Linked DNA regions of Homo sapiens: regions 1, 3 and 4 are each linked to region 2. Evidence: fine-mapped expression QTL. A gene starts in region 2. Each other region holds a variant in brackets. All regions are shown on one strand. Distances are from middle to middle. Region 1 has its middle 12 kb from the start of MIF-AS1. Region 2 holds the start of GSTT2B (glutathione S-transferase theta 2B). Region 3 holds the start of GSTT4 (glutathione S-transferase theta 4). Region 4 has its middle 15 kb from the start of DDT.

What was found.
Region 1: its variant is fine-mapped to the expression of GSTT2B in prefrontal cortex (GTEx, PIP 0.96).
Region 3: its variant is fine-mapped to the expression of GSTT2B in prefrontal cortex (ROSMAP, PIP 0.95).
Region 4: its variant is fine-mapped to the expression of GSTT2B in subcutaneous fat (GTEx, PIP 0.90).

Annotation. Positions count from the first base shown.
Region 1 is chr22:23,907,269-23,915,155 of GRCh38, reverse strand. No RefSeq gene overlaps it. Among named protein-coding and RNA genes, the nearest start is that of MIF-AS1, 12 kb to the right of the region's middle. RefSeq lists enhancers at 5,776-6,620, 7,467-7,887. The variant C/T (reference allele first, on the strand shown) is at 3,650.
Region 2 is chr22:23,956,877-23,964,763 of GRCh38, reverse strand. GSTT2B (glutathione S-transferase theta 2B) reads left to right here and starts at 3,569. Exons shown (of 5, transcript NM_001080843.4): 1 at 3,569-3,744; 2 at 4,383-4,470; 3 at 6,063-6,213; 4 at 6,306-6,479; 5 at 6,832-7,350. The coding sequence starts at 3,633. The coding sequence ends at 7,041. RefSeq lists enhancers at 4,683-5,348, 7,665-7,887.
Region 3 is chr22:23,999,049-24,006,935 of GRCh38, reverse strand. It overlaps GSTT4 (glutathione S-transferase theta 4), which reads left to right and starts at 1,483. Exons shown (of 5, transcript NM_001358664.2): 1 at 1,483-1,691; 2 at 3,089-3,176; 3 at 5,611-5,761; 4 at 6,685-6,861. The coding sequence starts at 1,580. LOC105372959 (a long non-coding RNA gene) reads right to left here and starts at 1,385. Exons shown (of 2, transcript XR_001755457.1): 1 at 1,344-1,385; 2 at 1-1,218. The variant C/G (reference allele first, on the strand shown) is at 3,833.
Region 4 is chr22:23,985,629-23,993,515 of GRCh38, reverse strand. It overlaps a transcript of GSTT4 not described here. Among named protein-coding and RNA genes, the nearest start is that of DDT, 15 kb to the right of the region's middle. The variant C/T (reference allele first, on the strand shown) is at 3,231.

The DNA.
Region 1 (7,887 bases), 50 kb after region 2:
TCTTTCGCTCTTCCGTGAAGCTATGGCCATCTACAAACCCTATGTCTTCCTTTCCTTTTTCAACCACATCTCTGCTACAGAGAACCTTGAAGGTCATTTCTACTAAATGCAAGCGGTTAATATTAGGAACTGAGACTTGTGTTTTTCCCAGGCATGTCCTCAAACTTTGGCTAAATTAACCTTTATTGATTGAGACACCTGTCTCAGTCATTTTTTGGTTAACACAATACAGATAAAGTAGGATCCCTATCTCATATTACACATAAACATTAATACAGATGGACCAAAGACCTAAATATGGGGGATGGATCAGTAGAAAATACGGGAGAATATCTCTATGACCTTGGGACAAGGGCTGAGTTTTTAAGCAAAACACAAAATGCTCAAATCATAGAGGAAAAGATTGATAGTCGCCTGTGTTACAATTTTAGATTTGTGCTTCAAAAAGACACCCTAGGAATTAGGGGTGGAAAGGAAGCAAGCCACAGAGTGGGAGCAAATATTTGCAATTAATGCGCTGAACTAGTAAAAGACTGGTATCCATAAAATTATAAAGAACTACCAATCAATAAAAACCACAACCCAATAGAAAAATGGGCATAAAATACAAACAGGCAATTCTCAGAACATGAAAACAGAGTAGTCAATAATTACATAAAGAGAAGTTCAAACTTACTCAAAGTAGGGAAATGAAAATCAAAGTTATAATGAATATTACATTCCACACCCATCAGGTTGGCACGCTCAAACTGTATGTTTAAGATGCTATATTTAATGTTATTACAATCAAACTATGTTCAAGTTTTTTAATATGCTATTACAATCATTATAACAGCAAAAAATTGGCAACACTCCAAACGCCCATTACAAGAGGATGGAACAGGATATAGAGTGGATATTAGCGAATTAGGCCCATACATCTGCGTGGGAGCATCTCAGAGAACGCAGGGGCGAAACGCCGGAAGGGCACACAAACCAAGCCCCGCCCCCGGGAACCCCGCTCCCACACGGAGCATGCTGGAGGCTGATAGGTTGGTTTGACCACGCCAGTTCCGCCTTCGCCTGCCCCCTTAGAGCCCCGCCCCCGCGCGGAGCATGCTGGGGACATACGGACTCACTTTCCTCGCCAACCCCGCCCTCCGGAGCTACCAGCAACAACCAACGGGCAGCGAGCAACGGGCGCGCGCTGCTCCCTTAGGAGGCGGTGACCATCTGCCCGTGTGCCCAGGGCCTCTGAGGGCGCTGGATGGCTCCGTTGTGTCCGGGTGGTCTCGGGAGCTGCAGGGAAGGGGCGGGAAAACTACACCGGACCCCATGGGGAGCGCAGAGGCGGAAAGGGAAGGGCCTAGGGACCTCAGATTGTTTTGAATCAAGGGCAGAAAGATCGGGTCGGAGGGAGGGAAGGAAATACTTCCGTGCCTTCAGAGGGAGTCTAGAGTCCCAGGCCGTGCCGGGTGGAAGGAACTGTGCAGCGTCCCAGAGGGAAGGAAGAAGAAGGGAAGAGAAGTGGACTCAGAAAAAGTGGAGGGGAAAGAAGGGAGATGGGAGAAATGGAGGGCAGAAGAGGCAACGTTCCCCAGCCCTATAAACCATAATGAGCCCATATGAGAAAGCAGAAAGGTGGGTGGGAAGTGGGGGGCTAGAAAGGAAAAGAAACAAAAGCTGTCTTGGTCTGAGTCAGGAGCCCAGCTGTTGTGACAGGAAGGGACCTCAGAGATGGCTTTCACAGGTGGCTGTGACTATAGCTCTTTCTGGTGCCTCAAGCTCCCTCTTAACCCCTGGGAGACTTTTACCTTTGGGAGAGATTTCCCTTTGGGTTAAGGAGGGGAAAGAGGGACAGAGGGACAGTGGCAAGGGATGCCAGGAGAAGGTGAGGGAGAGGACACATGAGTGTTAGGTTTTTGAAAAAAGACGAGGGTTAAAGACAAGAGAGTTGACCACTCTACAACACAGGTTTATTAACACAACCTACAGAGGTGGGGACCAACTTAATGCCAAAGCCCCACTAGCACTTACAGGCTGGAATCATTATAGGCCTGGATGAGGGGTCTGGAATGGTAGGACTTACTGCCCAAGAGGATGTTAATAAAAATATTTCTTAAACCTTTGTCCCAACAAGATGTGATAAAGAAGTCAGACAGTTGGGGAGGATGTTACTTACAGCCCAAACCCCTGCAGAATGTTTCACTGTGACCAGGGTCTATGAAATGGCAGGAAGATTTACAAAATAATACAGCTTGGACTAAAAATTAGGGCCCAGCCTGGGGAGAGCTAGGCACTGATTTTTAGAGAAGTCTATGTCTTTGGCTATGCCAGAAGCACTGCAATCTTATTTCAAGGGCTTCTGGATGTGGTGGACTAAGTCTAAGACTAGGGGGTCCAGAGAAGACCCCATCCTTAGTAACCCTTGTCAATAGGGAGACTTCTCACGGAATCTGCTCTTTGGGTTTGACCCTCTGTCTTCATGTTCATGCCTCATTCATCTTTGTTAGGTTTTGAAGGGAAGGTGAGGGTTAAAGAGTTGGCAGCTTAACAGCAACACAGGTTTATTGCCAGCACAAACCTGTGGAGGGGGGACCAGCTTAGTCTCAGAGCACGAGTCCCACTTACAGACTGGGACATTTACTATAAGGAAGAGGAAAGCAACACGAAGGGTGGCTGGGCAGTCAACAAGGACAGGTTTATTTTAGAAAATAAACTTGAGAGGGGCTTCTGGCCGAGTTAGCTCAGACTAACTTCTGTTACAGACTAAGGATATTTAAGGGTTTTGGAAGGGGTCTTATCGTAGGTTCCGAATGTTTCTGTGTGAGGGAAAGTTTATTGCGGGGTTGGAATGTCTCTGGTCGGAAGGGAGGCTGTCTCGGGGTTGGCATGTTTCTGGTCAGAGGGGTTTATCTTAGGGTTGGAATATTTCTGGTTATGCTGACATTAGCCATTAGGCTGATGTTTTGGGGCTGGATTTAGGCGGCTTTTAATGAAGGGGGAACTTAGAATGGTGGTATTTGTTCAAGATGGCAGTGCTCCTGCTCTGTCAGTTATGGGTCTGGACCGGGGGAGAAGGGGCAGTATAGCTTGCTCCCCTGCAGGATGTTGAAGATGTTCCTTGGGCCCTTCATCCAGCAGGATGTAATAGAGATGTTCCTGTGGTTAGGTGGTTAGGCAGTATTTTTTTATGACCTGAACCCCCATGGAATGTTTTATTCTGACCAGGTTCTGTGAAATGTTGGGAGACATCTGCGGCCATACTGTAAGGCTCTTGTGTTGGTTCGAACCCCGAGAGCTTGCCAGCAAAGAACACAAGGCAGTGTGGAGCAACACGCTGTTTTAATGAGCACCTGGGTGCAGATGGGCTGAGGCCTAAAATGGCGTCAGCCCCAGGTGAGGACGGGGCAGGGGTTTTATAGTCTCCTGTAAACAGGAAGTGTCCCAGTCTGATGTAACTGCTACATGGTACCCAGATGGCCTCTCTCTTGATCTTCAGGGGTACGTGTCTCCTGGCCAGCTCTCTTCCTGCTTCTGCTATCTTGCTGACACACGCTGCTAGCACAAGTGGTCTTGTGCCTTGGGACTGGGCCTGAGAAGGGAGGAGTTATTCATCCCCCCAAACTTTCAGGCCCCGGGGAGAATCTTTCACATACCACCCTGAACA[C/T]GCCCAATCTCGTCTGATCTCAGAAGCTAAGCAGGGTCTGGCCTGGTTAGTACTTGGATGGGAAATGATCACAGGGAGGCTTACAAAATGGTATAGGATATCTTGTGGTTTAAGCCCATTCCCTCCGGGAAGACCTTGTTGGTTTTCTCCCTACAGAACCTGCTGTGTACAAAATGGTGTAGGATATCTTGGGGTTTAAGCCCATTCCCTGAACCTGCTATGACATTAACTGAACAGCTCCTGGGGGTGCATCCCAATAGGGAAGTTATTGAGCTCCCAATGTTTTCGTGAAGCTGCTTTGTCAACTGTGAAATAATTATTGCCCTGCCCACTCCTGGGGTTGTTAGAGACCCAGTGAGATACTAAAAGTGTGTTTAAAGCATGTAGGGTCTGCAAATGCAATAAAGTGTGGTCAGAAAGCCCAACTCACGTGGCTTTGGGGGCCACTGGTGAGAGAAGAGACTGGAGGCAGCCTGTTGTGGTCAGAGCCTCCTGCTATTGTCAATTTCTCCTCACTGTCCCCTTTACCAGGAAGGCAGTGTCAGTTTGATCAGCTGCCAGTCTGTTTGCCCTCATTCCCCCTGGCCCTGCCCTGAGTCCAGCGACCTGGATTTGAAACCTGCATCTGTCACTTACTAGCTGAGGGATCTTGGGCAAGACATTTCAGCCCTTTTCTGCTTAAATAGAGTTAAGACAGCCTATGAATGAAACTATATAAACCAAGGCATTTCTGACTCCAGTAGGAGGCAGCTGCTGTGAGGGAGAAGCCCTGGCCAGGAATCTGTTATAGTTATTTTGTCACCAACTGGAATGGCCTTGGGACAAAGCACAACAGCTGTCTTGACCTCATCAATAGCCTTGACCTCATCCCTCGTGTCATGCTGTGTCATCTTCAACATCTGTCACTTCCATCAGCCTTAGCATTGGCCTTGGCCTCAGTTTCCTCATGTGTGACTTGAGGATGATGATTCTTATAGGAATCAATAAGCTTGGGATAAAGAAGCTATTGGGTCACATTATACATACTTTAAATGCATTAAGTGGGGTCTGCAGTTCCTAGAGATTAGCAGATTGCATTGCGTGAGAACAGAGCCATAGAGAATGTTTGAGGTCCCATTAATAGCTGATAGGAGGCTGATCAGTAAACACTGGGAGGGGAGGATTGACTCTTGGGTGAAGAGTTGGAGGAGGGTGGAGGATTGAGTCTTGGGTGAAGAGTTGGAGGGTGGAGGATTGAGTCTTGGGTGAAGAGTTGGAGGGTGGAGGATTGAGTGTTGGGTGAATTGAGTCTTGGATGAAGAGTTGGAGGGTGGAGGATTGAGTCTTGGGTGAAGAGTTGATTGGAAAACAAAGCTGAACAGAAAACCAGGGCATCATCAACACTGATGAGTAATTTTTTTTCTCTATAAAATGATTATTTAGATTAAGAAAAGGAATGACAAATTTTGAAAAGCCGACAAACACCACAAACTCCAGAAAAAAAAGAATCCTGACATTTTTACTAAGTGACAGACACACCTTCGCCTTTAAAACACTCTGTCCCCCCCATATTTCTTGGCTGCAGACTCTTTGATCACATTTTCGTGTGACAGTGATTTTGTAATATTTTCTATGGGGAGAATAGAAAGATAATTCCGTCTCTCCTTTGGCAGTAGGCATGTCCCTGTGAGGGAGGAGATCAGCAGGATTTTTCCAAGCACCTGTCAAAACCCTGCTGATCAAAACAGAACATAACAATAACAAAGAATGGCCAAAACCAGCTCGGAATAGGAATTAAAATGCATTTGCATAAGATACTCCCACCAGGGCCATGACAGTTTACAAATGATCCCACGGCAATAACCCAGGAATTATCTTATATGGTTCCAGGAACTTCCTGTTCCTAGTTTATGAATAACCTGCCTCTTATTTAGCATATAATTAGCAGGGGGTATAAATATAGCTAGCCAGCAATCCTGGAGTGCTATTCTACCTGTGGGGTAGCCCTGCTCTGTCTGTGGAGCAGCCATTTTGCTGTACAATGTTGCTTTAATAAACTTGCTTTGCTTTCAGTTTTGTCTGTTAGCTCACTCTTGAATTCCTTCCTGAGCAAAGCCAAAAACCCTCCCCGGCTGAGTCCCGATACGGGGATTTGCTTACATCAGCCAGAAGTAATTTATGCACAAAGATAACTATAGCAATTTTTAGTAGATACAGAAGTGACTTCAAAGCCCAGAAATGTGTCCCACTAAACTCATACAAAATGATCCCCAATTTTACCTTCTCCCTTAGCCATATCCAAAATAGCCACAGCCATTCCAACAGGACAGACGCGTGACAGAGGGAGAATATGAACTGAAAAGAGACACTAGGCCTCAACCAACTTGTAAAAATGTCTTCTACATATTTTCCAAAAGCACATGACAAAAGCATTGATAGGGCTCCTCCCAAGGCAAAGAGGGCCCCTGAGGGTTAAGCTTAATGTTGTCTCTGAAGCCACCTCTGCTCTGAATAATCGCAGCTGCACCGGTTGCAGCTCGCTCTTCCCCCAACATGTCCCACCTCACCCTCTCAACAATACAGTGGGGATGTTCTGAGATTTGTACCCACCGCCTAAAAGAACCCTCCTCTGGGTGGGATGAGATTCTCTGGCCCTTAGCAGGGCTCTAGCCTGCCCTGTCCTCTCCTACACATGCACCGGCAGTAAAAGCTGAACTTTGAACCACAGGTGCACTTCTTGAAAGGGGGCAGAGTGGGAGGCAGAAAAAACACGTTGGATCCTATACATGCCTTTGGGAACCCCCAGTGAACTCTCGGGGTTCCGTGTCTGGTCATCTTTACACTCCCTTCTAAGACTGCTGGGAGGAGCTATTGAACACTCTTGCATGAGACATCCACAAGCATAAAAAACATGGCAGCGGGGGAGGGGAAATGAGAGAGAAAAAGAGGAGAAGAATTTGAATAAAAGACTGTAGCTTGGAAGAGAAGGCAGTGGGGAGGGGCACCCAGATCTGGCCATCCTCACTGTCCCCCTGTTGCTGTGCCAGAGGCTGGCCCTGCCAGGAAAGCGTCATACCTTACCTCAGTTTCCCCTTTAAAACAGGGTTGCTAATTCCTACCTCACAGGGTGGTCCTCATGAGGATAACATGAGATAATGTCTGGGGAAATTGCTTGGGAAAGTGTAAAAGGCCACTCACACAGAAACCCCTCATGACCCATGTGGCCAAAGTGGGGACGTGGACTTAGAGGCCCTGGACCCAGGCCTGGGCCCTGCCTTGCCTGTCTGGGGAAATGGTCCTGGCCTTTACTCAACACTGACCCTGCCTTGGGAGGAAGAGCCTGCCCAGGCCAATCTCCCACGCCCTGACCGAAGCAGGTGCCGTCAGACAGAGTCCTGGCTTGGGAGTCAGAGGGACTGAGCTCAACACGTGGGTACCCTAGAACCTGCGCCTGGATAACTGAGTTGCTGATGCAGCCTGAAGGGGTGGGTTGCCCCTCCACACCTGTGGGTGTTTCTCGTTAGGTGGAACGAGAGACTTGGAAAAGAAAAAGACACAGAGACAAAGTATAGAGAAAGAAATAAGGGGACCCAGGGGACCAGCGTTCAGCATATGGAGGATCCCGCCAGCCTCTGAGTTCCCTTAGTATTTATTGATCATTTTTGGGTGTTTCTCAGAGAGGGGGATGTGGCAGGGTCATAGGATAATAGTGGAGAGAAGGTCAGCAGATAAACACGTGAACAAAGGTCTCTGCATCATAGACAAGGTAAAGAATTAAGTGCTGTGCTTTGATGTGCATATACATAAACATCTCAATGCCTTACAGAGCAGTATTGTTGCCCGCATGTCCCACCTCCAGCCCTAAGGCGGTTTTCCCCATCTCAGTAAATGGAATATACAATCGGGTTTTATACTGAGACATTCCATTGCCCAGGGACGGGCAGGAGACAGATGCCTTCCTCTTGTCTCAACTGCGAAGAGGCATGCCTTCCTCTTATACTAATCCTCCTCAGCACGGACCCTTTACGGGTGTCGGGCTGGGGTACGGTCAGGTCTTTCCCTTCCCATGAGGCCATATTTCAGACTATCACATGGGGATAAACCTTGGACAATACCTGGCTTTCTTAGGAAGAGGTCCCTGCGGCCTTCCGCAGTGTTTGTGTCCCTGGGTACTTGAGATTAGGGAGTGGTGATGACGCTTAACGAGCATGCTGCCTTCAAGCATCTGTTTAACAAAGCACATCCTGCACAGCCCTTAA
Region 2 (7,887 bases):
CAAGGCCTTGAATGCAAAGTTCAATGACTTGTACTTTAGCTTCTGGGCAGTGAGGAACCATACAAAGTTCCACACAGAAGGTCAGGGTCAAGTAAGCGTTTGCCCAAGCTCTTTTCAGAGGTCACATGGAAGCTAGAATGGAATGGGGTAGGAGACAAAAGGAATGCAGGCATGATATCTGGAGGAACTGTGGACCAGAGCCTTTGCAGATATGTCTTCTCTTCAACCAAGGAGACGGACAGCTCCATGTCTTTATTCTACCAACACAGCATCCCCTCAGTGGCTCAGCAAGTGTGGGACACGCACTCACAGCAAGAAAAGCTGCATTAAGGTCTTCAGATTCTCTTTAACAGCAGGTTCTACTGGAGGCAGGTCCTTGGCCTTCAGGACAGCTGGGAGGGCCTCCTGGAAGAAGTCCTCCCGCACTGCAGCCTCCACGTGTTGGGCACCATGCTGCCACCGTGGGTCCGCTTTCAAAGACTCAGCAGCCAGCACTGATGGGCTAGGGGAAGACAGAGTCAGCGGAGGGGCTGGGCATAGCCAAGTGTAAGGCAGCATGACCTGCTTTAGGGGTTCTCTGATTGGATTTTCCCTCCTCCACCATGTGTGTGATGGGCTAGGATGTCCCCCTCCCTGGGGACACTTGGAAGCCTCTTAATATAGCTGCGGTGAGGGGTTTGTAAAGCCCCATTTTATAGATGAGGACACTGAGGCTCAGAAGGAGAAGTGACTCACACAGGGTCCCACAGCCAGAAAAGACAACATGAGCTGGGATGTCAGCTCCCTTCCCGGATACACCACTGCCCAGCGGGCCACCGCACCCCATGGCACTCTCATGCCTCAGCTCCGTGATTGCCACCAAGCCAGCCACAGAGATACGGGGCCCAGTAAGGAAGGCCTGGTCCCGCAGGAACTTGTCCTCGAGCAGCTGCAAGCATCCGTCCAGCTCAGCCAAAGTGGCCGCCAACATCTCGGGTGGCACTGACTCGCCCAGGAACACAGGGATTATTATCTGGTGGGCCGACAGGCAGAGAGAGGGGTCAGGGTCTGCCCAAAGCCCATCCTGGTTCCCACCATCATCCTATCATCACCAGTCCTTGGGATTTCTGCTCACCTCTGCTCACTTCTTTCCACTCATAGCCACCAGTAGCTCTCATCTCCTACTCAAACAGGGACAGCCTCCCCCTTCTCCCTGGGTCCTCACACAAGGCAACCAGTGGGATCCTTCTGTAATCTCAATCTGCCCGTACCCTCTCTTGCATAAAGCCTTCCATGGCTCCCCACTGCCCTCATGAGAAAGGCCTCAACACAAAGCCAGCCTTCTCCAGTGCGGTAGCCATCCCCTCCCCACTTTTCACCTCACCTCCTACTACCCCCCACTTATCAAACGGGAATGTGTGTATGAATCCTCCCTGGAATCTGGTTACAGTTTATGCTCCCAATCAGTAAGGTCAGAGTGGGGCCTGAGCCTCTGCATTTCCAACAAGCTCCCTGGTGATGCTGATACTCCCAGTCCATTGACCACACTTTGGATAGGAAGAGTCTACACTTGCTCTACTCAACTTCTCTCCATTCTGTCCTCAAACACACCACGCTTCCTTCCCCACCAGCTGGAGGGGGCTCTGCTCCCAGGCCCCAGAGGTCAAGGCAGACACAGTTAAGGTGTGGAAACCTCCTTATTGCCCGATGGATCCTCCAGAGAGGCGGTCCCTTACTTTCAGCAGGGCGCGTGTCTACCTGTTTCATGCTGTCTCACACACAGGGTGCCACCCCTGTGCTGGGCACTGGGTAAGTGCTCTGTACATATTAATTAGGAGTACTCATTTCAAAAATATGTGTGCCTTTGATAAATAAAAACAGTATGTGCATGTTGTGTTGGTGTGTGCTTCCTTGATTATTACTGAAGTTAAACATGTTTTCATCCATGTATTGACCATTTCTCTTTGTCCTTCAATGAAACCTCTGCTGATTTCCTTCGCTCATTTTTTTCCTGTGTCTTCGTCTGATGAGTTTCTCTTCTTTTTGTTTGTTCGTTTGTTTGTTTTGAGACAGTCTCGCTCAGTGGCCCGGCTGGAGTGCAGTGGTATGATCTCAGCTCACTGAAACCTCTGCCTCCAAGGTTCAAGTGATTCTCCTGTCTCAGCCTCCCGAGTGTGCCACCGCACCCAGCTAATTTTTGTATTTTTAGTAGAGACGGGGCTTCACCGTGTTGCCCAGGCTGGTCTCAAACTCCTGACCTCAACTGATCCGCCCATCTCTGCCTCCCAAAGTACAGGGATTACAGGCGTGAACCACCACACCCTACCTGTCTGATGGGTTTCTAAGAACATCTTAAAGGACATTACTTCCTTCTGACGTATCTTTTACCGAGATCCTTCCCAGTTTTTTGCTTAAGGTTAATCCATTTTTTCCTCCACAAAGTAACCTTGTATATGTATTGGTTTTTTCTTTGTTGAGTTCTCCCACTGTTCTGAGGCTTAGAAAGTCCTTTCATACCCAGACATCAGAGAAACAGATCCCGTGAGAGTAACTGGGATTGCAGGTGTGGGCCAGCATGCCCTGTTATCACTCCCTTTCTCTGAGTCAGCTTTTCTCTCTCAGTCTCGTCTACTCCTCGAACTCAGGAAATGTCACTACAGGTGGCCCCAGCTCCCGTTTACCTCCCCATAGGGAGCTCCTCTCTCCAGTTCCAGTTTCAAAACTCCCAAGGAAGCATTCTGGTTCACTCGCTTGGGCCACTGGCCAGAGGGATGGGATACTCTGAAAGATTCAGCTAGAGTCCCGGGCCCAGCCCTGGACCATCACTGTGCCCCCTGGTGAGATGCCAGGGCTGGGATTCAGGGAGAAGAAAGGAGGTTCCCGGACAGTCATTCCTGCCTCCCGCGGCTGCGGGCTCCCTGCCCCCATCCTGTGCACGAAGTGGGAGCTCCCGCTGTCTGGCAGCTCCCGCTGTCTGGCAGCAGCTGCTCTGCAGGGGACAGTCTGGACGGCAGAAAGTTCATCCTTAACCCCAGCCTTCCAGTCAAGGTTCCCACCAGTTTGGGACACCTGCAAGTGTCACATCCCACTGGGTGAAACTCTAAGATCCCTTTTAGGGGATCCCATTCGCTCCCTCCCTTCCGCCACCATGCAGCGCCGAGAAACAGAGCTCTGAACGAACCCTCAGATGTCCGTGCGCTGGGGCCTTTCCAGGACGGCGGCGCCCAGTCGTTTCTGGGTCAGGGCGACGCCTGGAACTGGGCAGGGTCCCTGGCACCGGGATCCCGAAAAGCAGACCTGCTTCTCCCTGTCCAGCCGGTTCCCCTTCCCCTTGCAGTCGGCCCCCTGCATCCGCGTCCTCCCTGCCAGTCGAGGGTCCCCAGCTCCAACTCCACCCTCCCAGCTGTGCGTTCATAGCGACCGCCCTCCCTGTAGGGACGCACGGATCTGGTGGTGGAGTCTTGGCCGGCAGGACTGGACAGGAACCGAAGGGGCGAGGCGGGTCCGGGGGTGGTGCGCTCCAATTGGGTGCTGTCCCCAGGGGGTGGGGCCTGATCCCCTATTTCCCGGCGCGCCGGGATCCTGCCACAGCTGCTGCCCACACCGCGCTCAGCGCCTTCACTGCCATCCCCGCTGTCCTTGCCGCCCCCGCCATGGGCCTAGAGCTGTTTCTTGACCTGGTGTCCCAGCCCAGCCGCGCCGTCTACATCTTCGCCAAGAAGAATGGCATCCCCTTAGAGCTGCGCACCGTGGATTTGGTCAAAGGTGGGCCCAGCCCGTTTCCCCGCGTGTCCACAAACCCAGTGCACCCCCAGGCCCCCGCCCTGCTCTGCCCTGAGCGTCTCGCCGCCCGCACAGCCCCCTCACCTCCTCCTGCAGCGTCTGCCACCAGAGAATGCTGTGGACTGAGTGGCCTTGGAGGGATCACAGCCTCTCTGAACCTTAGCTTGCCTTCTGAAAAGGAGGATAATGTTACCTTCTGCTCTGTAGGGATGGAAAGAAAATACTGAATGGAGTTGACAGAGTTCTTGCGTGGAATGCACGCATATAAATTCACAAAGCCCAGAAGACCTTGGGAAGAAGGACATGCTGTTGTGAGAATTAAGAGATGGGAAGAGATGAGCCACCCCAGTTTGCCTCCCCTCCCCTGGCCCACCAGAGTCCGGCTAGAAAACTTCTCTTTATCCACCTGCTGCACCTGGCCCCACCCACCAAAGCCCCCCAGCTGCCCCGGAATGTGGCAGGGCAGGGAGGCCCAGCCAGGGAGTGAGGCTGATCCAGGCCTCTAGTCCCAGACCTTGCTGTTTCTCAGGGCTGTGGGGCTCCGCTTGGGGAGGAGGAGGGAGGGTGTAGAGGTGCAGCGTTTTTATTCTGAAGACCTTTTCTGACTTCTTCCTCTTCAGGGCAGCACAAGAGCAAGGAGTTCTTGCAGATCAACAGCCTGGGGAAACTGCCGACGCTCAAGGATGGTGATTTCATCTTGACCGAAAGGTGCCCTCCTTCCCTCACCCCTCACCGCATCCGGAGCCCATGTGACCTTGGCTCTCCCCACTGGCCCCGGGCCCCAGTGGCCCTCCCATACCCCATGGGGCAGCGAGGGAGGGGAAAGGCGAGGGATCTGGCCGGGCGCGGTGGCTCACGCCTGTCATCCCGGCACTTCGGGAGGCCAAGGCGGGCGGATCACGAGGTCAGGAGACCGAGACCATCCTGGCTAACACCGTGAAACACCGTCTCTACTAAAAATGGAAAAAAAATTAACCGGGCGTGGTGGCGGGCGTCTGTAGTCCCAGCTACTCTGGAGGCTGAGGCAGGAGAATGGTGTGAACCCAGGAAGCGGAGCTTGCAGTGTGCTGAGATCGCGCCACTGCACTCCAGCCTGGGCGACAGAGCTAGACTCCGTCTCAAAAAGGCCGGGCGCGGTGGTTTACGCCTGTAATCCCAGCACTTTGGGAGGCCGAGGTGGGCGGATCACGAGGTCAGGAGATCGAGACCATCCTGGGTAACACGGTGAAACCCTGTCTCTACTAAAAATACAAAACATTAGCAGGGCGTGGTGGCGGCCGCCTGTAGTCCCAGCTACTGGGGAGGCTGAGGCAGGAGAATGGCGTGAACCCAGGAGGCGGAGCTTGCAATGAGCAGAGATAGCACCACTGCACTCCAGCCTGGGTGACAGAGGGAGCCCACTCCAGCCTGGGCGACAGAGGGAGACTCCGTCTCAAAAAAAAAGGAAAGAAAGAAAGGAGAGGTATCTGGGGAGAAGGTACAGCTTGGGGTGTGACCGGGATGAGCAGGGGCTGACAGAACATGTCCCCCCACCTCTCATCTTCCAGCCTTTTCTGAGCCGCAGGGCCTCTCCACTCCCAGACTGAAGGGTATTAGAAGAGAAGACAAGGGAACATTTTTCCACTGTTGCGCATTTGTTCAACAAATGCTAGCTGAAAAGAGCCTCTAGTGACTTGTTGCAGACTACCCAATCTACCCAGGCCGGGCCTAGAGGCCAATGCCATGGCCCAAGGGCACAGCTCATGGTGAGGTCCAGCTGCTGGGCAGGAAAAGGACAAGAGGTCAGGTGGCTGCAGAAGTGATGGCTGGGGGCCTGTCAGACGGGGGCCAAAGACATTCCTCCCCTCGTGATCCCTGACCCAAGCGCGTGGACATGCAAGGGACTCCACGGAGCATCCACTGTGTGCCAGCCCCATGCAGGGTTCCAGGGGTCCAGGGAGCCTATTCTGAGCTGCACCGCCTCGGACAAGTCACTTGACCATTCTGACCTTGAGTTTTCTCTTGTGCTAAAAGGCTAACAGGAGTGTCTACCTCACAGGGCGGCTGCTGGCATATCACAGAGATGAGGTTCTCAAAATGCAAAGCAGAAGGTCCAGCCAAGAGTCGGTGCCCAAGGCAACAAAGACAGGAGGAGACTCGTAGGAGGAGGGGGTGGTGTTGGGGAGCTGGAGATGGAGGGCGAGGCTGGAGGGCAGTCCTTCAAATGCAGAGAAGCCCCCGGGCCCCACTGGCAGATGGGAGCAGTTAGGGGTAAATGCCTGGTGCCAGTGTCCTTATAGCCACTGCCCATTTGTTCCCAGCTCGGCCATCCTGATTTACCTGAGCTGTAAGTACCAGACGCCGGACCACTGGTATCCATCTGACCTGCAGGCTCGTGCCCGTGTTCATGAGTACCTGGGCTGGCATGCCGACTGCATCCGTGGCACCTTTGGTATACCCCTGTGGGTCCAGGTGAGGAGAGCCATCTGGAGAGTGATTGGCCATCAGGGAGTAGTTGGCAGTAGGCCGGGGCCATAGACTGACCCACTCTCTGCCCCCATCAGGTGTTGGGGCCACTCATTGGGGTCCAGGTGCCCGAGGAGAAGGTGGAACGCAACAGGACTGCCATGGACCAGGCCCTGCAATGGCTGGAGGACAAGTTCCTGGGGGACAGGCCCTTCCTCGCTGGCCAGCAGGTGACACTGGCTGATCTCATGGCCCTGGAGGAGCTGATGCAGGTGTGAGCTCAGCCTGTGGGCAGTGTCCCTCTTCGTGTCACACCCATGAGGCAGACAGAAACACTGAGGCCTGGAGAAAGCCAGAACTTTGCCCAGAATCATAGAGCAAGTCTCTGGATGATCTGGGGCCAGAACCCTGAACTTCTGCCTCCTGCCTGGGTGTGGGGTCTCACCCTGGCTGCTCTTGGGCTCTAAGGCTGAACATACTGCCTGGGCCCCTGTGGTCCATTCACTTAGGGGCTGGGGAATGGACCATGTCTCTGATACTTCTGCCCATGGTTCCAGCATTCGGGTCGGCAGTGACAACTGGGAAAGTTGTATGCCCACAACTTTTTCATCCTTGTCCCTACAGCCGGTGGCTCTCGGCTATGAACTGTTTGAGGGACGGCCACGACTGGCAGCATGGCGTGGACGAGTGGAGGCTTTCCTGGGTGCTGAGCTATGCCAGGAGGCCCACAGCATCATCTTGAGCATCCTGGAACAGGCGGCCAAGAAAACCCTCCCAACACCCTCACCAGAGGCCTATCAGGCTATGCTGCTTCGAATCGCCAGGATCCCCTGAAGGGTCTGGGATGGGGGCCAGGAGATTAGCAACAAGGATTCATTCTGTTACTTACTTGCCCCTTTTTATCTTTCCCTCTTGCCCCAGTCCCTTCTCTCCAGCTTCATGTGAAGCTCTGCACAGACAAGACACTCAGTGTCCTTGGCAGTGCTGCTACTCCTCAGGTGCAGCATACATAACCAGTAAGAGACTAAATCTGCAATATATAAAGAGCTCCTACAAATCAGTAACATGAAGAACACTCAAAAATTGGCAAATGTCATCAGTGTTTTAAACAGAATAAAGATTCCAAACACTTTGAATAGAGAACCAAGAGTTATTGGTTTTACTACATTGTTGTGTTATACATATGGAGTAAAAGTATGTGCTAGTAATCCTCATCATGGTTAATAACAAAGTAACCTCACAATAACGAGTCAACATAATTGTATCACCAGGGCAACAAAATGTTAAGTAAGTAACCAATTCGAATTGCAAACTGTTAAAGGATATAGGCGATGTTTCACAGGGCATAGCAACGGTCTTTGAAGTCTAGGAAACTTAAAAGATTTCTTTTAACAAGCATTCATGTCTTCTAGGACAGTTTTGTAATAACTGCAAATAGTAAGATTATACATTGTCACACAGACCTCCATGTATATCCATGGGATGGACCCCACCACAATGATTTTAACGGAGAGAACTTGATATAAAGAATTGGTAACCAGGCATTAGAGAACTCCGAAGACAGAGAGAATCCAGATTAACACGGAGGTAAACACTGCAAGAAGCTACCACCCCTAGGGCTGGGGGATCAAGGGAGGAATTAGGAAGACCAAGATGCTGGAGGGGCCCTGAAGAATTCAA
Region 3 (7,887 bases), 42 kb before region 2:
AGGGGCCTGGACCCCCAGAGATGGAAGGCACCAGTTGGTACATATTACATATTAGCTTCACTTCCACTGTCCTCAGCAGACATAACTAATCTATCACAGTACTCCTTCCCCTAAGCCTGAATGAATCCTTAGAAACCTTCTGAACACAGAGCCCCAGAGGACATCACTAATGAGTGGCAGCCGGGAAGGGATGGAGAGGAGGCCCAAGAGGCTTCCAAGAGTCTGGGTTAAGTTGCTCCTCTCCTCCCAGCCCAGTCTCTCCTGCCCCACTTCTCCGGACAGCCTGCAGATGCTGCACAGCTGGAGCGGCTGTTGGGGAGGCTGATGCCAGCCCTGCAGCACCTGGATTGGGGGGTGCTGGTGGCCAGGCCCTTCCTGGCAATGGAGCAGATCTCCCTGGAAGACTTGGTGCTGACGGAGGTGATGCAGGTGAAGCTTTCCTACCCACCTGCCCTCTGGGGGGACTCTGGGCATGGGGCTGAGCCCCAACCCCAGCTGCCCTGTCTTCCCAGCCCACTGCCGTTGGCTGCGACCTCTTCCAAGACTGCCCCGGCTGGCAGTGTGGCAGGCCCGTGTGGCGGCTGCCCTTGGTACTGAGCTCTTGCTGGAGGCCCACAAGCTCATACTCCAGCCTCTGAACCACAGTGAGGCTTGGCGGGACCCCCAGCTGGCCCAGAAGCAGGTGCAGTGGGTGCAGCCCACTCCACTGCACCCTGCTGTCTGCAATAAACACACTGCATGCTCTTCGCTTGTCTCCAGGCTTACTCTGTCACCAGAAGTGGGGTCAGTCCCATTTCTCAGCCTAGACCTATTAGATCACAGCATAGAGTGAGTGGCACTCAGTCCTCTACGTGGGGCTCTAGTTACCTTCCTTGGCCACCAGGTACACAGTCTGGCCACTGCAGCCCCAACCAAGGCCAGGAAGTTTCTAGGCTCCTCTGTGTGGCACACACCGGCTGAGTGCCCCCTGACTTCCTGGTGGTGGTGTCCCCATTGCTCCCAAAGCTCACAGTTTCCTGTGTCTCTTTCTCCCAGTTCCTTTCTAGTCATAGTTCAGGCTCGATTCACCTGTGTCTCTTTCTCCCAATTCCTTTCTAGTCATAGTTCAGGCTCGATTTACCTGTGGATACTCCCAGCCTCTACTTCTAGAATCCTCCAGGGATAATTCTCATTGCCTCCTCTTCATTCTGGACCCTGCAAAGCCCCTTTCGTCAGGTTCTGCAATGAAAATCCAGCCGTGGGAATTCCCAGGCATAATCCCTTCTCAGACTGGTGTCTGTGAGGTGGCACCACGGGGCACAGGCACACGTGGAAGGGGGAGAGTAGGGTCACGGCTGCCACACCTTTGCCACGGGCCTCTCCCCAGCCTACTCCTGGGCCTCCTTAGAATCCTTGATGCTGTGAGAATTGCAGGCTTCCTGGCCTTATGACAACACAAAGGGAAACAAGAGGTTTCCCTGGGGAACACAGGATCCTGGGCCCAGATCGGAGAGGGCACAGGGCCAGGGACTCTGGCCAGACATAGGCCCAGGTCTGTGGCTGGCCAACTGCGGCTGTGGGGCCTGGCATGTGTCTCAACATGGCACTGGAGCTCTACATGGACCTGCTGTCAGCACCCTGCCGTGCCGTCTACATCTTCTCGAAGAAGCATGACATCCAGTTCAACTTTCAGTTTGTGGATCTGCTGAAAGGTCAACTCCCACTGCTGCCTGGCAGGCCTGGTCCTGGGGGGAGGCAGGACACACAGATTGCGGCTTTTCTTTTTTTCTTGTTTTTTGATGGAGTCTCGCTCTGTTGCCCAGCATGGAGTACGGTGGTGCTATCTCGGCTCACTGCAACCTCTGCTGGGTTCAAGTGCGTCTCCTGCCTCAGCCTCCCAAGTAGCTGGGATTAGAGGTGCATGCCACCACGCCCAGCTAATTTTTTGTATTTTTAACAGGGGTTTCACCATGTTGGCCAGGCTGGTCTCAAACTCCTGACCTCAAGTGATCTGCCCACCTCAGCCTCCAGAGTGCTGGGATTACAGGCGTGAGCCACCGCGCACAGCCTGATAGGGGCGTTTCTGAGGAGCAGAGACAGAGACAAGGGAATCACCCCAGAGGTCCACAGGGAAGGAAAAGATGCCACGCGGCTTGTAGGCTGCATCCTTGTCCAGCCTACCTTAGTCAGTGCTCACTAATGACAGTCCCCACGCCACAGATGAACAGGCTTTTCGAGGAGAAGGGGGAAGGAACAGTAGCTGGGACTCCCTGGGCTCCCACCAGGCACCCTGGCTTCCTTGTGGGATTCTAGGACCTTGTGAACTCAGCACCTGCCCACCAGGTTGGCAAAGGGGGCAGAAGTGCACAGTCCGTCTACACCCATCCTCCCCAGTGTTGAGAAAGGCTCAGGGCTCCACTAACCCTGAGTGAGGGTCAGAGGGGTGGGCTCCAACTCCATCCCCAGCACAGAGGGACTCCAAAAGCTCAGCCTGCAAAAGCAGAAGCCTCTAGAACACAGAGGAAGAGACAGGGAAGCTGTGGAAATGAACGGGCTGCGAGTGGAGCCCCCAGAAATGTTTCCAACTGGAGGCGGCTGGTCCAGGAAGAGTTTCAGTTCCTGCCCCCACCTCAGGTTCCCTGTTAAGATGACCCTGATTGTGTCCGAGAAGCTTCCCTTTGGATGTCCAGCTGTGTGCTGGGCCTGGCTTCCTTAAAGTGGAGACAGAGTGAGAGCGATGGGATTGCGGATGGGACCCAGGCCCTCAGGGCTTCAGGTGATTCAAAGGCTGTGTTTTCAGATCCAGCTTTGGGGGTGGGCACTGGAGGCCTCCAGCTTCTGGGTAAAAGGGTCGTCCTGGTCCTGGGACACAGGTAGGAGGCACGGGAGTCACCAAACCTAGGGTGGAGCAGGCTGGGAGCCAGCAGTTCTGATCGCAGTCCGGTTCTGCAACTGCCTTGCCCTGTGACCTGGGGTGAGACGCAATGTCCCTCCGGGCCTCAGTTCCCTCTTCTTGAGAAAATAGAGAGGGAGGCGTTTGGGTCTCTGGGAGTCTCAGTTCTCTCTCCCCTGGAGTCCCACAGCCTCAGACCTTCCCTGCCCCTCCCAGGTCACCACCACAGCAAAGGATACATTGACATCAACCCCCTCAGGAAGCTGCCCAGCCTCAAAGATGGGAAATTTATCTTAAGTGAAAGGTAAGTCTTCCCTGGGGCCCTTGCACCATCTGTCTCTGCTTCTCCTGGGAGGTTCAGTGCAAGCATTTGTCTGTTTGACCATGGAAAATCTCACACGTGCACTAAAGGAGAGTGAATACTAACTAATGAGGGACACGAGGAACCCCACAAATCCATCGCCCAGCTCTGACTCTTGCCAACTTGGGGTCCAGTTTACATCATTTCTATTCCCCTGCCTCCCAGACACCCCATCATTCCATTCATAAATGTTTAGAAGCCAGCTCATGCCTGTAATTCTAGCACTTTGAGAGGCTGAAGTGAGGGGATGGCCTGAGCTCACGTGTTCAAGACCAGCCTAGCCTAGACAACATGGCAAAACCCCATCTCTACAAAAAATACAAAAATTAGCCAGCATGGTGGTCTGCACCTGTAGTCCCAGCTACTCGGGAGGCTGAGGCGGAAAGACTGCTTGAGCCAGGAGGCAGAGGATGCAGTGAGCCAAGACTGCGTCGTTGCACTTCAGCGTGGGCAACAGAGTGAGATCCCATCTCAAAAATAAAAATAAATAAGTAAATAAATCAATAAATGTTTAGGAACATACTTTTCAGAGATAAGAGTTCTTAAAACAAACAAAAAAAAAGCAACAGGCTGGGTGTGGTGGCTCATGCCTATAATCC[C/G]AGCACTTCCAGAGGCTGACACGGGAGGATCGCTTGAGGCCAGGAAGTTCAGAACTGCAGTGAACTCTGATTGCGCCACTGCACTCCAGCCTGGGCTAGGATAGAGCGTAGCATCACTACGATACCATTAAGATACCTCATAAAATTAACAATAATTCCTGGATTTCATCTAATATGTGGCTCCTGTTCAAAACTCTATGATTATCTCCTAAACATTTTCTTGGCAGTTTGTTTGGATCAGGATCCAAAGAAGTTTTTTTTTTTTTTTTTTTTGAGACGGAGTCTCGCTCTGTTGCCCAGGCTGGAGTGCAGTGGCGCTATCTTGGCTCACTGCAAGCTCCGCCTCCCGGGTTCACGCCATTCTCCTGCCTCAGCCTCCTGAGTAGCTGGGACTACAGGTGCCCGCCACCATGCCTGGCTAATTTTTTTGTATTTTTAGTAGAGACGGGGTTTCACTGTGTTAACCAGGATGGTCTCGATCTCCTGACCCCATGATCCCCCCGCCTCGGCCTCCCAGAGTGCTGGGATTACAGGCGTGAGCCACCGTGCCCAGCCAAGAAGTTCTGAGTCTTGCAGCCAGTTGCTGTCTCTCCTGCCACTTTTTAACCGATAGCTCTCTCCATGCCCTGACCTTTTTACCTTGGCATGGTTGCTGCTGGTGATGATAAAGGAGCCCTTGTTCTGCGGAGGTTCCCACACCAGCCATCAATCAGCAAGGCCTAGGACATCCCCTCCGAAGCATGTCTCCCCTCCATCCCCTTCCCTCTGTCCCCATGGCCTCCAACATTCCCAGACACCACAACCTTCCCGATAGTTGCTGGCCCCCTCATTGTCCATTCTGCCCCCTCGGGCTCACCCTCCATCCAGCACCAGAGAGATGGATCCTTTCATGCCCTGGCTTATATAATGCCTAATCTTAAGCATTAAGTCCATAACCTCCCTGCACCTCCAGGGGCTACCCTACGTGGACTCCACAGTGTCTCTGGCTGCCTCATCACTCCCCAATCACCCCCACCCTTCTTCCAGTTGCAACCCCCTACTCTCTTTTCTTCAGATTTACCTTGCTCCCTTTACCCTCGTATTTCAGCATGTGTTTTTCTTTGTTGGTTTTTTGAGACAGAGTCTTGCTCTGTGGCCCAGGCTGGAGTACAGTGGCACAATCTTGGCTCACTACAACCTCTGCCTCCCAGGTTCAAGTGACTCCCGTGCCTCAGCTTCCCAAGTAGCTGGGATTACAGGTGTGTGCCACCACAACTAGCTAATTTTTGTATTTTCATTTTAGTAGAGACAGGGTTTCACCATGTTGGCCAGGCTGGTCTCCAACTCCTGGCCTCAAGGGATCTGCCCCCATTGGCCTCCCAAAGTGCCGGGATTACAGGTGTGAGCCATCGTGCCCCCCCGTTTTTGTTTTTGAAAAAGGATCTTGATCTTTCACCCAAGCTGGAGTGCAGTGGTGTGATCTTGGCTCACAGTAGCCCCAAATTCCTGGGATCAAGTGATCCTCCCACCTCAGCATCCCAATTCAACACGTGTTGTTCCCCCTGCTGGCCTACTCTTTGTTATACCACCAGCCCCCAACTCCTACTCACCCCGCAGGGCTCCTTCCCAGCCCTTACTGACTGTCAGACAGACAGCTCTGGTGAAGGTCTTTCTCGGGGCCGTTTGGGCTCCTCTTTGCTCTGGAAGCCCCAGCAGTTGGGCCCAGGCCACACCGGGGTGGTTGATGTAGTGGCACTCAGGAAGGCAAGGGCAGTGCCCCTGACCGGCCCCTTCTGCAGCGCGGCCATCCTTTACTACCTGTGCCGCAAGTACAGCGCACCATCGCACTGGTGCCCGCCAGACCCGCACGCACGTGCCCGTGTGGATGAGTTCGTGGCTTGGCAACACACGGCCTTTCAGCTGCCCATGAAGAAGATAGTCTGGCTCAAGGTGAGCAGGGCCACTTCTGGGGCTTGGGGACACGGGCACAGGGAAGTCAGGAAGGCTGGAGGCCAGTTCTGGCCCTGCTGACTGCCGGCGACCTCAAGCAAGTCTCCCTCCCTCTCTGGGCCTCATTTCCTCAGCTCCTTCTCCTGCCCGCCTTACAGAGCCGTCAGGAGTGTGGACTGAAACAATGGGCATGAAAGAGTCTTATTAGGGCGAGGGGAAGGGCATACGGGAGGGGCTGATGTGACTCACCCAGGACAGCATTCGAGGCATTTCATTCTGAACTAGAGAATCTCAGCGTCAAAAGGCCCACAGAAGGCCGGGTACGGTGGCTCACAACTGTAATCCCAGTACTTTGGGAGGCCGAGGCGGGCAGATCACTTGAGGTCAGGAGTTCAAGACCTACCTTGCCAACATTGTGAAACACCATCTCTACTAAAAATACAAAATTATTAGCTGGGTGTGGTGATGGGCACCTGTAATCCCAGCTACTCAGGACGCTGAGGCAGGACAATTGCTTGAACCCAGGAGTTGGAGTTGGCAGTGAGCCAAGATTGTGCCACTGCACTCCAGCCTGGGCGACAGAGTGAGACTCCATCTCAAAAAACAAAAACAAAAAAGAGTATGGCCTATAGAAAATTAGAAGATGACAAATAACCAGTACATGTGTCTCTACTTTGAATTCTATGCCTGTGACAGACATCACTAATCAATCACAGGACTTATGCCTGCTGAGCTCCCCAAATCCTTGTGAACACATGGTTCCCAGCAACTTCCACCAATCAGAACTGCTAAAAGAGGTGAAACTGCTTTATATCCTGGGAAGTGTTCAATATCTATCCAGCAGACAAGAGTACAGAGACCTGGCAGGGCAGGTGGCCCTGGAGTGCAGCCTCCTCTTCCCTCCTCTTCCCAACCCTGGCCAGTTGCTGATCCCAAAGATAACAGGGGAGGAAGTTTCAGCTGAGAAGATGGAGCATGCAGTGGAAGAGGTGAAGAACAGCCTGCAGCTCTTTGAGGAGTATTTTCTGCAGGATAAGATGTTCATCACCGGGAACCAAATCTCACTGGCTGACCTGGTGGCCGTGGTGGAGATGATGCAGGTGTGGAGTGGATTGGAGGAGGGTTAGACCCTGGGCAGAGGTAGGACTCCTCTGTGACCAATGGGGCCATCACTTGAGGATAGGCTGGTGAGGCGGGAAAGGCAGGCAGAGCTGCCATGGGGGCTGCGGGAACCAGGCCTGGGGGCCTGGACTCAATCGGGGCAACAGGAAGCACAGAATGTTATGAATCAGGAAGGATCACAGTTCTCCACACTTGACAAAGATTCTTCGGTGTGGGAGGACCCGGAGGGTGAGCCTGGGATAGAGAAGAACACTGCATTTCCTGCTCAATCCACCGGCATCCCAGATACCTCCTCCTCTTGCTGGACTCTCCAGGAAATGTTCACTGGCTTCCTGGGTGTCCTTCTGGCCCTGCCTGTTTCCCAGAGCTCCAGACAGACAGCTCTGGAGGACAGCTCTCGTGGCTGGGTCTGAGGGGCATCCACTGTGCATTTGGAGGCACACCTGAGTGTGGGGCATTTATGTGGCCTCTACATGCAGGGGAGGGTGACCAGTTCTGCTTGTCAAGACACTGGCCAGGGTCTCAACTGGCCATCCTGCACACCAGCTAGGGCACTGCACACTGACCAAAGAGACTAATTTGCATATCAGCCAGAGATATGCCCGAGAGGAGGGACCTGGGGTCCTGGTGGATTGACCAGAAAATGCAGTATTCTTTTCCTTATCCCAGAGATCTCTGGCTGATATGAAAATTAGTCTCCTTGGTCTGTTTGCAGGGCAGACCAGCACCAGGAAAAATCATTCTGGCCTGCCCCAAGGGTTCAGCCATATGCTTCGTCCCCACCCCTTACATTTCACCCACACACACCCATTCTTGGGCTTCCCAAAGATCTTGGGTGCAAACCAAACTCTTAGTAAGCCAGCGAAACTGCAGGGTAGACTGCCCGCCAGGTCTCCCATCCTAGCCCCTGAGCTTGATCACAGTGGGAGGCTAAACATGGAGGAAAAAACCTGAGTTCTCTCCCTCATCCACATATACACACCTGGGATAAGGGGTCTCCCTGG
Region 4 (7,887 bases), 29 kb before region 2:
TTTAAGGTGCATTTGGATCACCTGAGGATCTTATGAAAATAAACTCTGTCTGATTCAGTAGGTCTGGGTTTGGGGGTGGGAGCCTGTTAGTATATTTCTAACAAGCTCCCAGGCAAGGCTGCTACTGCTGCTGATCTAATGACCACAGTTTGAGGCTGGACAGAGTGGCTCACACCTGTAATCCCAACACTTTGGGAGGACAAGGCAGGAGGGTCTCTTGAGGCTAGAACTTTGAGACCAGCCTGGGCAACGCAGCAGGACCTCGTCTCTAAAAAACAAGAGAGAAGAAGAAAAAGGAAACAACAAGAAGACCTCAACTAGAATATGAAGCAGCTAGGCCACATATGTCTTCAATGGAGAAAAGAGCTTTTTCTTGAGTAAATTGGAGTGTACCCATGTTCCTTGTCAATGATGGTAACTTTAAATGTCAAGAATGTGAGAGAGGCCAGGGGTGGTGGATCACACCTATAATCCCAGCACTGTGGGAGGCTGAGGTGGGAGGATCACTTGAGCCAAGGAATTCAAGAGCACCCTGGGAAACAAAGTGCGACCCCGTCTCTACAAAGTCAAAAAATTAGCCCAGATTGGTGGCATGCGCATGTGGTCTGAGCTACATGGGAGGGTAAGGCAGAAGGATTGTTTGAGCCCAGGTCGAGGCTGCAGTAAGCTAAGTTTGTACCACTGCACTCATTCCAGCCTGGGCAACAGCAAGACCCTGTCTCGAAAAAAAAAAGAATAGTAGAGACCAGGGGAAGGTGTGGCCCTGGGGTAGGCGCTGGGAGACTGGAGAACAACTGTTAGTGGTCCCATCACTGCCCAGAGCAGACAGTGCCCTGTCCACCCTCATGAGATCTTTGAACTCCTTGGACAGGACTGGCTATAAATGAAAATGTGGGGACCCTTATTTTTAACTTGTTAAGAATGTTAAGATGGCAACAGCAAAGCTTTAAACCAAGTGCATGGCCCTTCTGCGTTGTAGGCCCACAAGGCCGACACTGCTATTCACATCCTTGTATGGTCCCCTCCCCTTGAGTGTGGCTGGGGCCTGTGCTCTACTGCTTGGAAGCAAGGCTTATCCCTAAGCCTTATTTTCGGGAAGGTGGATTTGAGAGCTACTATCCCACATCCTTGCTTGGTGCCCTGTGAATAAATCTTTTCTCTTTTGCAAAACTCGTGTCATGGTGATTAATTTACTGTGCAATGCCAGGCACTGTTGGAAACCTCTGGATAGGCCTCACAGGGCCTCAGCCATCTCGGGGAGGCGTTAGCTAGAGTGTAACAAATATGACCCCAGCAACTGGGGAGGGACAGCTCATTCCTTCATGAGGTGTGGGGCTGGCAGCCCCGCAGGCAGTCAGCCACCCTTCCTCTCTGGCCTCCGTCCTGGGCACTGGGCCCAGGCACTGGGCAAGGAGGCTGCTGCACCTCCTTTCTCCTCTTCCTTTTTTTTTTTTTTTTTTTTTGAGACGGAGTATGGCTCTGTCGCCCAGGCTGGAGTGCAGTGGCGTGAGCTCGGCTCACTGCAAGCTCCGCCTCCCGGGTTCACGCCATTCTCCTGCCCCAGCCTCCCGAGTAGCTGGGACTACAGGCGCCCGCCACCCCGCCCGGCTAATTTTTTGTATTTTTAGTAGAGACGGGTTTCACCGTTTTAGCCAGTATGGTCTCGATCTCCTGACCTCGTGATCCACCCCCCTCGGTCTCCCAAAGTGCTGGGATTACAGGCGTGAGCCACCGCGCCCAGCCTCTCCTCTTCCCTTTTAGTGGGAAATATACCTGCAGCCTAGATTCCCAGAAAGGGGTGGTGAGAGAGCAGACACGCCACTGATTGACCCAAAGTTCTAGGAGCCAAGGGATGAGTGAAGAGGGCGTGGCCGGACTCGGGGCTCCTGGTGAGGTGCACCGCTGCAGGCTCGGTGACCCAGCAGTTCCTGCCCATCCCTCACCTACCCCCAGCCGTTCCTGTCCGCCGCCCCCAACCAGCCATTCCTGCCCGCAGTTCCTGTTCCCGGGCCTGTCCCCGGGTTTGTCCCCAGGGCCCGTCCCCTGGGTTTAGGTCTGCCCTCCGACGCCCCACCCCATTGCCCCCGCCATGGGTCTGCTGTCCCAGCCCTGCCGTTCAGTCTACATCTTCGCCAAGAATGGCATCCCCTTCGAGCTTCGCACAGTGGAGCTGACCAAAGCTGGGCTGGGCAGGCAGGCCCAGGGGATATTGGCCACGAATCCCTGCCTGTCCCCGCTGCTTTGCAGTCGGGCCAAGAATGCAGACTAACACGAAGAATCAGACTCTCCGGTGTGGAAACTATTACATAATTATCTATGTTATTATTTTTACTTTTTGGAGACAGCATCTAACTCTGTCACTCAGGCTGGAGTGCAGTGGCACAATCATGGCTCACTGCAGCCTTGACCTTCCAGGCTTAAGCGATCCTCCCGCCTCAGCCCCTCAAGTAGCTGGGACTACAGGTGCCCACCGACATGCCTGGCCAATTTATTATTATTATTATTATTATTGAGAGGAGGTCTTGCTGTGTTTCCGAGGCTGGCCTAGAACTCCTGGGCTCAAGTGATCCTCTTGCCTTGGCCTCCCAAAGTGTTGGGATTACAGGCATGAGCCGCCATGCCCCACTGGTTGTCTATTTTAATAGAGGCTTGATCTTTGCTTGTGAATACAAAACATTCTTCAAAATACAGGTTTAGAGAGGGCACAGCAGGCACAGAACGAGGGTAGGGAAATGGAGTGGGGCAAGAATATCTTCACCCCATGTGCTTGGAAAAAACAAACTGCCTCGTTGTTTCCTAAGTAAAATAGTCCCTGTCTACCCCTGCCTGTGTCTCTTCCACTTTTTTATTGTTTGTTTGTTTATTTATTTATTTATTTATTTATTTATTTATTACAGTGTCTCAATCTGCAGCCCAGGCTAGAGGGCAGTGGCATGATCCCGGCTCACTGCAGCCTTGACCTCTCAGGATCAAGTGATCCTCCCAACTTACTCCTCCTAAGTAGAATAGTTGGGACTACAGGCACGTCCCCGTGCCCAGCTACTTTTTTTTTTTTTTTTTTTGGTGTGTGTAGACGCGTGATTTTGCCATGTAGACCAGGCTGACCTTGAGCTCCTGAGCTCAAGTGATCCTCCTGCCTCCTCCTTCTAAAGTGTTGAGATCACAGACATGCACCACCATGTCTGGCCCTGGGTCTCTTCCACTTTTATGTATTTCTTGGCATTCTTCTG[C/T]CTTTTCTTTTTCCTGCATCTGACTTGCTCTATCCCATGGGGCTTCTCACCCAGCTGAAGGGGCTACTCCTAGAGGCTAGAGGCTGGAGGGCCCTGTGGCAGGGCAGTGGGGGAGGCCAGCACCCTCACCCTGAGCTCCAGCGTTTGCTGGTCTGGCTGGCATACAGAGATGCAGCTGGAGCACAATTCAGTGGAGGAGGCAGGGCTATAACTAAGCAGTAGGGCAGAGAGCAGAGCCAGAGCCCCCTGGGCAGGCCAGAGGGAGGACCCTGCTCAGCTGACTCTTCCCAACTGCTGCCCTTGGTACAACCAGCTTGAGTCACCTGCTACAGAACAGGGGCTGGACACAGAAGCAGTCTGTGGAGGGAGAATGGGCAGGGGTGTGCATGTCCATTCAGTAGAAGGGCAAAGAGGCCCACATGTAGGCCTATGATCAGACTGGAGCCTGGCTTGACTGAGGTCCTCTGATCCAAACACCAGGCACCTAATGCGGCCTCTAGCACTGGCCTAGAATGCTAAAGTGAGTCAGACCTGGGAACCCCCAGTGGGGAGGGAGCCTTGAGAGTTTGGCATAAGAAAGGAAGAAGAGCTGAGCCACCGGGGGCTGAGTGGCTGAATGGGGCAGGGATTCCCAGCAAGAATGAGGTTGGTCTGAGGGTTGGGAACATGTTTGGCTGGGACTCTGGGGTATTGACAGGTCACCCAGCCTGGCCAGTAGGGCCTAAGTCCCCAGCTGGGATAGGAAGCTGAATCAGAGGGGGCAAGCCTAGAGCCCAGGGAGGAGGCTGGAGGGGTCTGACCTATGGATGGAACTGGCTGGGGGTGGGGTGTGAATTACAGCTCCAGGGAATTGTCCTTGAGCCATGCTTCAAGGAGCTGGACACAGGAAAGATGGCCCTCTGATGGGGTCAAGGTCTGTGACCCAGTGACTAGCAGAGAGGCTTCCTCTTCCCTGATGCCTCCCAGATAGGGGCCTCAGAAAGCTGCTGCTGGGATTTTGGGGTGGGGGTGGGCAGAGACCTCAGAGAACTCTGGGTTATCCCCACTCACCTCTCTGATCTCTCCTGCAGGCCAGCAGCACAGCGATGCCTTTGCCCAGGTGAACCCCCTGAGGAAGGTGCCGGGCCTTGAAGGATGGGGACTTCACCTTGGCTGAGAGGTAACCGGTCCGTGGGCTGCTGCCGGGCCTTGTGGGGCCAGTCGGCTGTCTGTTCACTGTTGATGGCTTGGATCATGGACTGTGGGCCCTGCACCAGCCCCAGGGTGAAGAATGGGTGGAGGCAGGCAGTGGTACCCAGTGTTGACAAGGGTTATAGAAGTCCCCTCCTGCATTGTACAAGTGAGGAAACTGAGGCTGGAGGAGGGGAGGGACTTGCACAAGGCCAGAGGGCCCAGTCTGCTTCCGGGCCTCCTCACCGCCAGCCTTCCCCTCCGAAAAAAGGAGAGTGCTAAGTTTCGAGGAGCGGCTGTACCAGGCATCTTAGTGCTACCATTTTGCCCACAAATCCTGTGGGGCAAGTGCTGTTTCCCTGGAGAGTCGAGGGACCACTCAGCGAGCTTCAGTGGCTATTTGCTAAACATCCACCAGGGCCAGACCCCATTTAAGCCCTGGGGCTTGAGCAGTGAACGTGTCTACGTCCTTCTCCTCATGGATCTCACATTCCATTAATAGAAGGGGGAGCTGACAGTAACCCATGTAAACATGGAACATATCGGATGTTGATGGATGCCATGGAAAAAATAAACAGGGTAAGATTGGGGGTGTGTGAGTAGGATGTTGAGGGAAGACTCCCTGGAGGAAGTGGCATCTGAGCAGAGAGCTGTAGGAATGTGCAAGGCATGAGGAGAAGGGTGTTCTGGCTGGAGGGAAGAGTGATGGCGAAGGCTCCAGGTGGGACAATGCATGGGGTTCAGACTGGAGAGCAACGGGCCAGGGTGGGTGTAGTGAGCAGGAAGAGCAGGAGGTCACGACAGAGGGGAGCATGGGACACTGGGAAGGCTTTGGCTCTTACCGCAGGGGGATTGAGTCGCTGGAGTATTTTGAGCAGAGAACTGTGATCTGACTTACGTCATAAAGGATCCCCCTGGCAGGGGTGAGAAAGCCACTGCAGTCATCTGGCATGCAGCGCTGGAGCCCCAGACCAAGGTGGTGGTGGTGCAGGGTTGGTGGGGTGATGGTCGGTTCTGACTTTTCTTGAAACTCTAACTGCAGGGTGTGCTGAAGGGTTGGAGGTGGGTGGGAAAAATGAAAGCCAAAACCAGCCTCCAGGTTGGTGGCCGCATGGTGGCGTCCTTTACCGAGGCCACATAGTGCCTCCTTGGTGGAGCTGGATTCACATTCAGAGCCTGGGATCACTGGATGGTCCAACACCCATAGAGGCATGATGAGCTCTGGGGGTCAGACTGCACAACCCTTCACCATAGGTGAACAGGAGATGGGACGGGGTGGGGAGCAATGCTGCCATGTCACCTGGAAGGCTCTCTCCCTGCTGGCCTTGCTCCTGGCCCTGTCCATGCTTTGGATATGTTGGGGAGATACCCAACTTGCTCTCATTCTTCAGACTCACACTGGGTGCCCCTTCCTCCTGGAAGCCTTCCCTGAGCCCCTGCTGAAGTTCATGACATTTTGTTTCTTCCTTGCTGCCATTAGTTGAGATGATAATCTGGCCCCGTGTAGGGCTGTGTGACCCTGGGCAGTTACCTAACCTCTCTGAGCCTCACATCCCTCCTCTGCATCATGGGGATAGTGAAAATGCCCCAGAAAATGGCTGAAGAGTGTTCAGGGCATGTCTTCTGCCCCTGCCATGTCCCCCCAGTGTGGCTAGCTTGCTCTATATGAGCTGCATGTACAAAGCACCTGACCACTGGTACCTCCAGGACCTGCAGGCCCGCGCCCATGGGGATCAGTACCTGTCATGGCAGCACATGGCCCTGCAGAGTAGCTGCTGCTGGGCCATGTGGCAGAAGGTGAGCCATGGAGGGCAGGGACACCTCCCGGGATGCCCAAGGGATGCTGCTTTCACTTTACAAAATCCTGTTTAGACCTGAGACCAAATCCTGGAATGCCAGAGACTGCCTAATTCACCCAACTTGTTTCATAGGAGGGAAACCAAGGACCAGAGCCAAGGAAGGATTCCCCTAATGTGCCTTAATTCCACAGCTACCACCTGCACACTTACACTCACACACTGTTCGACACACAGCCACGCACACTCACACACACATCCACCCACGTCCACCCACAGTCACACGATGTATCACATTCACACATATACACCCACACACACAATCATAACATTTACACACAGTCACACAGTTAACTCCTGTACACACATATACACCCACACAATCACATAATTCACTCATATTCAACAGTCACACAACTCACTCACATTGACACACATACACACCAACCCCACACACAATTCACATACATACACACACATATACACCCACATACACAACCACACCATTCACTGACATTAATACAAAGTCATCACACAGTTCAGTCACACACACACACACACCTCACACACACAGGCACACAATTCACACCAACAAAATCACACAGTTCACTCACACACATACACCCACATACACAAATTCACACTGCTCAGTCACATTTACACACCATTCAAATTCACACACATATACACCTACTTACACACAGTTCACTCACACCACACACATATACACCCACATACACACAGTTCACTCACATCACACACATATACACCCACATACACACAGTTCACACACATCACACACATATACACCCACACATAAACAAAGTTACACAATTCACTCACGTTCACACACACAGTTCACTGACATTCACACACGTACACACGCACCACACACAGGCAATTCAGTCACATGGCCGAAAGCCATTCCTCACCTTGCTATGGTTCCCTTCCCAGTGTCACCTTAGCCTTTGGCCCTCAGCGTCCCCTTCCCATGCCTGGACTGCTGGAGAGCCCTGAACACACCCCATCTTCATGCCTCCAGCACTAGCCCAAGCCCTTCCCTCTGCCAAGAGCACTAAGTGCAACTCAAGATCACTTCTAGGGACCCTTCCCTGCCCCTCCTCCTGCCAGGTGACCTAAGGATCCTGCTGGTCCCGCTTGACAATGATGCACAGCATGGTTAGTTCAGCTGAGGTCGCTCTCCCAGACTTACTGCCACCTACACAGCACGGGGACTGACTGTTTAACTTTATTCTTTATTTCGTGTACTTTATTGGAGTGTCTGTTGAAAGCAAAACCATCCAATAAGGAACAATCCCAAGGCAGCCAGCATGGATCAAGAAGGCATAGGCTGTGGCCGCCATCCCCAGTGCCTGATGGGGAGAGGGGGTGGTAATGGAAAAGGCCCAGGAAAGCAGGCCAGAGTGTCCCCCAAAGTATGAGAAATCACTGGAAGAGAGAGCCAGAATGGGACCTAAGACAGAAGCCATCACCAGGCACCCTTAAGGCAGGACAGTTGCAATGGTTACTTGGAATACTTCCGGCTAGGAGTGGTGTTACAGGAAGTCAGTGACCCCAAACAGAGGGACCGGCTGAAGCCATGACAGAAGAACGTGGAGTGTGAAGATTTTATGGACATTTATTAGTTCCCCAAATTAATACTATTATAGTTTCTTATGCCTGTCTTTACT